Linked DNA regions of Homo sapiens: region 1 is linked to region 2. The links come from fine-mapping of genetic effects on gene expression. A gene starts in region 2. The other region holds a variant in brackets. All regions are shown on one strand. Distances are between the middles of the regions. Region 1 overlaps PKIB (cAMP-dependent protein kinase inhibitor beta). Region 2 holds the start of SERINC1 (serine incorporator 1).

Region 1 (4,531 bases), 220 kb after region 2:
GTGTATTTTTCTCTTTCGGATGTGTCTTTGTCTGGTTTTGGAATCAGGGTAATATTGGCATTATGGGATGAATTTGACAGTATTCTTTTCTTCTGTTTTTTTTGGAATACTTTGAGTAGGACTGGTATTAGTTCTTCTTTAAATGTTTGGTAGAATTTAGCAGTGAAGCCATTGGGTCTCAGGCTTTACTTTACTGGGAGACTTTTTATTATGGCTTCAGTCTTGTTACTTGTTATTGGTCTGTTCAGGTTTTGTATTTCTTCATGGTTCAATCTTGATAGATTGTATGATAGATTGCATGTCTAGAAATTTATCCATTTCTTCTAGATTTTCCAATTTATTCCATATAGTTACTTATAGTAGCCACTAATGAGCCTTTCTTTTTTTTTTTTTTTTGAGACAGAGTCTTGCTCTGTCGCCCAGGCTGGAGTGCAGTGGCGCGATCTCGGCTCACTGCAAGCTCCGCCTCCCGGGTTCACGCCATTCTCCTGCCTCAGCCTCCCGAGTGGCTGGGACTACAGACGCCCGCCACCACGCCCGTCTAATTTTTTTTTATTTTTAGTAGAGACGGGGTTTCACCATGTTAGCCAGGATGGTCTTGATCTCCTGACCTCGTGACCCGCCCACCTCGGCCTCCCAAAGTGCTGGGATTACAGGCGTGAGCCACCACACCTGGCCGATCCTTTCAATTTCTCTGGTATTGGTTGTAACATCTCCTTTTTCATCTCTAATTCTATTTATTTGGGTCTTCTCTCTTTTTTTCTTAGTCTGGCTAAAGGTTTGTCAATTTTGGTTATTTTTCTAAAAACCGAATTTTCGTTTTATTGATCCTTTGTGTTATTTCTTCATTTCAATTCCATTTACTTCTGCTCTGATGTTTATTTCTTTTCTTCTACTAATTGTGGGTTCAGTTTTCTCTTGCTTTTCTAGTTCTTTAATATGCATCATTGAGTTGATCACTTGAAATTTTATTCTTTTTTGATGTAGGTGCTTATTGCTATTAACTTCCCTCTTAGTACTGTTTTTGTGAATTCCACAGGTTTTGGTATGTTGTGTTTCCATTATCATTCGTTTCAAGAAATTTTTCAATTTCCTTCTTAATTTCTCCATTGATCTACTGGTCATTTAGGAGCATATTGTTTAATTTCCATGTGTTTGTATAGGTTCCAAAATTCCTCCTGATTTCTAGTTTTATTCCATGGTAGTCAGAGAAGATGCTTGATATTATTTCAATTTTTAAAATGTTTTAAGACTTGTTCTGTGGTCTAACATATGGTCTATTCTTGAGAATGTGCAGTATGTTGAGGAGAAAAATGTGTATTCTGCAGCTGTTGGATAAAATGTTCTGTAAATATTTATCAGGTTCACTTGGTCTATAATGCAGATTAAGTCCAATGTTTCTTTGTTGATTTTCTGTCTAGCAGATCTGTCCAGTGCTGCAAGTGGGATGTTGAAGTCTCCAGCTATTATTATGTTGGGAGTCTATCTCTCTCTCCAGCTCTAATAATATTTGCTTTATATATCTAGATGCTCTAGTGTTGGATGCATATATATTTAAAATTGTTATATCCTCTTGCTTAATAGACCCCTTTATCATTATATGACCTTTGTTTCTTCCTATAGTTTTTGTCTTGAAGTACATTTTTTTTGATATAAGTATAGTTACTCCTGCTCTTTTTTGACTTCCATTAGCATGGAATATCTTTCTCCATCTTTATTTTCTGTCTGTGTGTGTCTTTGTAGGTGAAGTGTGTTTCTTATAGGCAACAGATCATTGGGTCTTTCTTTTTTTTTTTAATCCATTCAACCACTCTGTGTCTTTTTATTGGAGAATTTAGTCCATTTACATTCAATGTTACTATTGATAGGTAAGGACTACTCTTGCCATTTAGTTGTTTTCTAGTTGTTTTGTGGTCTTTTCTCCTTTCCTGCGTTCCTTTTAGTGAAGATGATTTTCTCTGGTGGCATAGTTTAATTTCTTACCTTCTATTTTTTTGTGTATTTGTTGTATGTTTTTTGATTTCAGGTTACCATGAGGATTGCAAATACTATCTCATAACCCGTTATGTTAAACTGATGACAGCCTAACACTAATTGCATAAACAAACAAACAAGCAAAAAGAAATCTAATAAAAACTCTATACTTTAACTTCCTCTCCCTGCTTTTTTAAGTTTTTGATGTTTCTATTTATATCTTACTATACTGTCTATGTCTTGAAAGGTTGTCTCAGTTATTATTTTTGATTGGTTCACCTTTTAGTCTTTCTACTTAATATAACAGTAATTTACACACCACAATTTCAGTGTTATAATATGCTGTATTTTTCTGCGTGCTTATTAGTAACAGTGAGTTTTGTACCTTCAGGTGATTTCTTCTTGCTCATTAACATTTCTTTTTCTTTCTGATTGAAGAACTCCCTTTAGTATTTCTTGTAAGACAGGTCTGGTGTTGATGAAATCCTTCAGCTTTTGTTTGTCTGGAAATGTCCTTATTTCTCCTTCATGCTTGAAGGATATATATATATATATAT[T/TA]TTTTTTTTTTTTTGCCAAATATACTATTCTAGGGTAAAAGGTTTTTTTCCTTTAGCCCTTTAAATATGGCATGCCACTCTCTCCCGGCCCTAAATTTTCCACTGAAAACCCTGCTGCCAGACATATTGGTGCTCCATTATATGTTATTTGTTTCTTTTCTCTTACTGCTTTTAGGGTTCTTTCTTTATCCTTGACCTTTGGGAGTTTGATTATTAAATGCCTTAAGGTAGTCTCCTTTCAGTTAAATATTCTTGATATTCTATAACCTTCCTGTACTTAGATATTGATATTTTTGTTTAGGTTTGAGAAATTTTCATTATCTTTTTGAATAAACTTTCTACCCCTGTATCTTTCTCTACCTACTCTTTAAGGCCAATAACTCTTAGATTTGCCTTTTTGAGGGTATTTTCTAGATCTTGTATGAGTGCTTTATTCCTTTTTATTCTTTTTGCTTTTGTCTGCTCTGACTGTATTTTCAGATAACTTGTCTTCAAGGTCACTAATTCTTTCTCTGCTGTATCAATTCTGCTATTAAGAGACTCTGATGCCTTCTTCAGTATGTCAATTTTATTTTTCACCTCCAGAATTTCTGCTTGATTCTTCTTAATTATTTCAATCTCTTTGTTACATTTAACCGATAGAATTCTGAATTGCTTCCCTGTGTTATCTTGATTTTTTTTTTAACTTTCCTCAAAACAGCTAATTTGAATTCTCTGTCTGAAAGGTCACATATCTCTTTTTCCCCAGGATTGGTCCCTGGTAGCTTATTTAGTTCATTTGGTGAGGCCATGTTTTCCTGAATGTTTTTGATGCTTGTGGATGTTCATTGGTGTTTGGGCCTTGAAGAGTTAGGTATTTACTGTAGTCGTCTCAGTCTGGGCTTGTTTTTACTTATCCTTCTTGGGAAGCCTTTTCAGGTATTTGAAAGGATTTGGGTATTGTGATCTAAGGCATATCTGCATTACAGGGTACCCCAAGCCCAGTAACACTGTGGTTCTTGTAGGCTTGTAGAGGTACCACATTAGTGATGTTCAATAAGATCCAGAAGAATACTCTGTATTACCAGGCAGAGACTCTTGCTCTCTTGCTTTACTTTCTCCCAAACAAACAGAGTCTCCCTGTCTGTGCTGAGCTGCCTGGAGCTGGAAGAAGGGTGACACAAGCACCCCTGTGACCACCAGTGCTGGGACTGCTCTGGGTCAGATCTGAAGCCAGCATTGCATTGAGTCTTGCCCAAGGCCCGCTGTAACCATCCCCTGTCTATAGCCTATGTTTGCTCAAGGCCCTAGGGCTCTACGATCAGCCAGTAGCAAAGCCAGTCAGACCTGTGTCCTCCCTTCAGGGCAGTGAATTCCCTGGCACATTGAGTGAATTCAGAGATGTCAAATGGGAGCCAGGAACTGGAGTCAAAACCTCAGGAATCTGTCTGTTGCTCTATTCTACTACAGCTAAGCTGGCACTCAGACCATGAGACAAAGTCCTTCCCACCTTCCCCTCCTTTCCACAGCCAGAGGAATCTCTCTCTGTGGCCACCACCACAGCCCCATGGGGAGTACTTCCAGGCCATTGCTTATTTTCACTACTTGCCTAAAGCTCTTCAGTCAGCTTGTGGTGAATGCTTCCAGGCTTGCGACTCACCCTTCAGGGCAGTGGGCTCCCATCTGGCCCATGGCAGGTCCAGAAATGCCATCCAAGAGCCAAGGCCTAGAATTGGGGCCTCACAAGGCTGGTTGGTGCTCTACCCCACTGTGGTTGAGCTGGTACCTGATTTTTGGTTCTTATAAAGGTGTAGATAGTTGTTAAATTAAATTGTTGTTTCTGTCAGGGGGACAATAGGTAGAGGCTTCTATTCAGCCATCAAGATCTATCCCTCATCTGGGCTACCTTATTTTAGATTAAAAATACATCAAAGAAACATTATGTTTCAGACTACATAAAGCCTTCTGATTTATAAGTTACTAGGAAACAAGTTTTGAATTTTAATCTTGGCAATTAGCAA
Region 2 (4,000 bases):
TTTTGTTTTTTTTTTTTTTGACACAGAGTCTCACTCTGTTGCCCAGGCTGGAGTGCAGTGGCGCCATCTTGGCTCACTGCAGCCTCCGCCTCCTGGGCTTAAGAGATTCTCCTGCCTCAGCCACCCGAGTGGGATTACAGGTGTGCGCCACCACATCCGGCTGATTTTTGTTTTTTTGTTTTGTTTTGTTTTGTTTTCTGAGATGGAGTCTTGCTCTGTTGCCCAGGCTGGAGTGCAGTGGCATGATCTCAGCTCACTGCAACCTCCGTCTCCCAGTTCAAGCAATTCTCCTGCCTCAGCCTCCCGAGTAGCTGGGACTACAGGCATGTGCCACCATACCCAGCTATTTTTTTTTGTATTTTTAGTAGAGACGGGGTTTCACCATATTGACCAGGCGGTCTCCCACTCCTGACATCAAGTGATCCATCCACCTCATCCTCCCAAGTGCTGGGATTACAGGCGTGAGCCACTGCAGCAGGCTCTGAGTGTTACTTTTGAAAAGCTGAATAAATTTTAATTTCATCAAAACCTCTAAGTAAATGAGCACATTAACTGTTAAGAATGTGGAAGAGATGGTCCCCTTCAATGACTATTGGCCTGCAGTAAAATCAAACAATTAATGAATAGAGACAGAGGCACAAGGAAGAAAAGGGAAAAAGATTACTGAAACTGCAAACAATAAAATAAATTCCAAACTGAGCACGGTAGCACCTGCCTGTAGTACCAGCTACCTGGGAGGCTGAGGTTACACTTAAGCCCAGCAGTTCCAGGCTGCAGTTCACTACGACCATCCCCTGCACTTCAGCCCGGCCAATACACTTAGACCCCCATCTCTAAAAAACTGCCTCACTGCTTCTACCTTTTTAATGTACTTCGCTATTAACACAGAAACTAAAAGGCAGGGTCAATTTTATCACGGACATTCTTCTAATCAATAAAGGTGGCGATCTATTTTGTAAAAGGGAAAACATGTATCTCATCTTTTAAATCTCTATTATATACAAAAAACTACAGCACGCCCACTTCATAACTGGACAAGATACGACATTACAAATTGAATTGCATAACATCTTCCAATAAAAAACCGATGAAAACAATCTTATATGATAATCAATTATCAGTTTTCAAAACTGTTTATCACACTAAATATGCCTCTTTTGTATAAAAGTCAATAATTAAACTCTCTAATATCTTGAGATAAAATATTCCAGGCTTCCGTGCAAGAAGAAATACCATATAATCAAAAGAACAGACTGGCTGGAGTAACAATCCCCACATTATTATTTGATTAAAATTCAACATTTTTAGTTCAAGACATATCAAAACCTTTAAGAGTATATATAACGGAATCATTTGGGAAGTCAGAAAAGCAATTGTTAGAAACAGAATTAACAAATTCCAGACTAAAGAAAAGTGATTTGAGTCCAAATACCTCGCCTAAAATTACAAATATCTTTATTAACTGCACTGCCAATGTTTTGCCTACTATTTTGGAGGGGGCAGAGATTATCTTAAATAAACTGAAATTTGTGCCACACGGACCAAAGTCTTGCCACTATACTGAAAATAGTTTTACTCTAACAACTCTTTAATGAAAATGCAATGTACAGCTAATTAAGCATGAAATTTCAGATGACACACGCATGTTTTGTGCCTAAAGACAAAATTGTCATTAGGCACAAGGCATGCGTGTGTCATCTGAAATTTCAATTTTAAGTTGAAATCTGAAATTGACACTTCAAACAGTTACGGCAGAGCTATGACTATTTGTTTCAAAAACAATATTACTACATTAGCATTACTGCCAGGCGGTTCCAAATGACGACAGGCACTTTTTAATCATAATCTGCGCCACTGAACAAAGAGGGCGACATGAATCCAGGAACGACAGTGCGGCAGTCTGAGGTCGCCAGGAAAGAGATGACAACAGAGTGGGTACCCCACCGAAGGAAAGGGGCAAAGACCTTTGTAGAGATGGCCTGCGCAGATACAAACAAAACCACGAAAAGGGACCTCAAAGAATGGGAGACAGCGTTCACGAAGCAGGGGTGGGGGAGGGGCCCTATTCTAGTTCTCTTCCTCAATTTGAGTCATCTTCCCATCGCCACTAAACCTTACGGCCAGTGATCAGTTCTTCGCAAGACCCAAAGCTCTGAAGCTGAGTCTGAGTGACGAGAGGAGACGGGAAGAAAACGGGGACAGAGAGGGCACTCCCTGTTGGGTGGGGCACCACATTCCCGCCGGGCTCACCCAGCCCCGGCTCGGATCGCCTTCTCTTTGGTCTCTCACACTAGCACCCCAGAGGCCGCAAAAAGCACCTTACCCAGCTCGCCATGGAGCACAGCCCCAGGACGCTCCCCATCTCCACAACGTCACAAGAGCAGCGGATACAGACAAGATGGAGACAGCTTCTTTCTCGCCTTTCCGAGATTATTTACTATCTGCGAGACACTTCCGGACGCACAGCGCAACCCGCCCCTCAGCCTCGCGTCACTTCCTTCCAGGCCTGGGTAGGATAAAACACGGAGCGCGCAGCGCTGAGACTGCGCATGCGCGTCACTAGACGACACGGCTGTCTTCTTTCCTGGAGAATTTCTCAAGGACTGCTGGCTGGAAACTTAACGGCTAATGTGGATCTGACCGTAGTTTGCCAAATTAAGAAAACGGTGTGAGCAAAACCCACCTTTACCTACCATGCACTTGCATTTGGGCATTAGTAGAGAACAGAGCTGAGGTGGTGGTTGACGTTTTGCCCTCCTTCATCTGAGGAACCTCTCTGCTTTTTAGGGGATTGCTTCCTCTTTCTCAGTCTTTGTCCGTCCTAACTCCACTTATTTCCCATTTTTCCCACGTTTGCATCCTGTTTTGCTCTTGCGTTTGCAACGTATTCCTGCAGCCCGCTGCCCGGAACAAGTTTTATTGGGATATTTATATTCATCTGTGTGCTTCAGTTTCTCTGTATCATTTCTGTTTGCTATTGACTTATATTTTAATTTCTTATGCTATTAAGATGTTACAAGAAATTTGCACGTTAAAATTATTTTTAATTAGTTAGATAAGACATTATCAAACTCAAACATTGATTTCGAATGTCATGAGCTGTTGAGGCATGTGGAACCCTTGCATATTAGGTGATGATGCACATCTGCAGGGAATGCATTCCTATAAAAGTTCCAGTTATTTTTTTAGAGTTATTTGTTCTTGAAAATATTCTGGGAAACAGCTCAAACTTGAAATAGTCATTCCCATAACTAATAATAAGAAAGTGTTGTAAAATCTACAAAAATTGCATGGGTCGAGGTGGGGTAAACACCTAAGAATCTGGAAGAATGTCAGAATCCCTACTCCTAGTTATTGTAACCACTAAGGGACAATCTTGCTTTATTCTTCTTTGCCTTATCTGTGGTTTTGTAGACCACTCTTAAAGCAAAGTATTATAATAGAGCATCCATAAGGTTTAAAGAATTGTGGAAATGCTTGTAATCCCAGAACTTTGGGAGGCTGAGGCAGGCGGGTCACAAGGCCAGGAGTTCAAGACCAGCCTGGCCAGCATGGTGAAACCCCATCTCTACTAAAAATACAAAAAATTAGCCGGGCATGGTGGCACGCGCATGTAATCCCAGCTACTCGGGAGGCGAGGCAGGAGAACTGCTTGAACCCGGGAGGCAGAGGTTGCAGTGAGCCGAGATTGGGCCACTGCACTCCAGCCTGGGCTGCAGAGCGAGACTCCGTCTCAAAAAAAAAGAATAGTGGAAATGGAAATTACAAACCTAACAATATTTTTAATTATGCTAAACTTAATACGTTATTTATGGGAGAAGAGAATCCTAGTATCTCAAGTCCTTAAACTTTTCAAAGTACCAGAGAAGGAGACAAAAAACACTTATATGTGAGTAACTTTAAGGTCGTAAAGAATATGTTTATTAGCCAAATGGAGAATGGGTCTCTTAAAATTTAAATTTGCACAGATTCTTGTCTCTTGCTCCATTTAAGAGGGTTT

Evidence for each region. PIP is the estimated chance that this variant, and not a neighbour inherited with it, causes the effect.
Region 1: its variant is the best candidate, but not a certain one, in a credible set for the expression of SERINC1 in whole blood (INTERVAL, PIP 0.81).

Annotation. Positions count from the first base shown.
Region 1 is chr6:122,688,403-122,692,933 of GRCh38, forward strand. All of the region lies in intron 3 of PKIB (cAMP-dependent protein kinase inhibitor beta), which reads left to right. Among named protein-coding and RNA genes, the nearest start is that of PKIB, 80 kb to the left of the region's middle. The variant T/TA (reference allele first, on the strand shown) is at 2,532.
Region 2 is chr6:122,469,376-122,473,375 of GRCh38, forward strand. It overlaps SERINC1 (serine incorporator 1), which reads right to left and starts at 2,432. Exons shown (of 10, transcript NM_020755.4): 1 at 2,324-2,432. The coding sequence starts at 2,362. It also overlaps a transcript of PKIB not described here. RefSeq lists enhancers at 2,082-2,481, 2,532-2,591.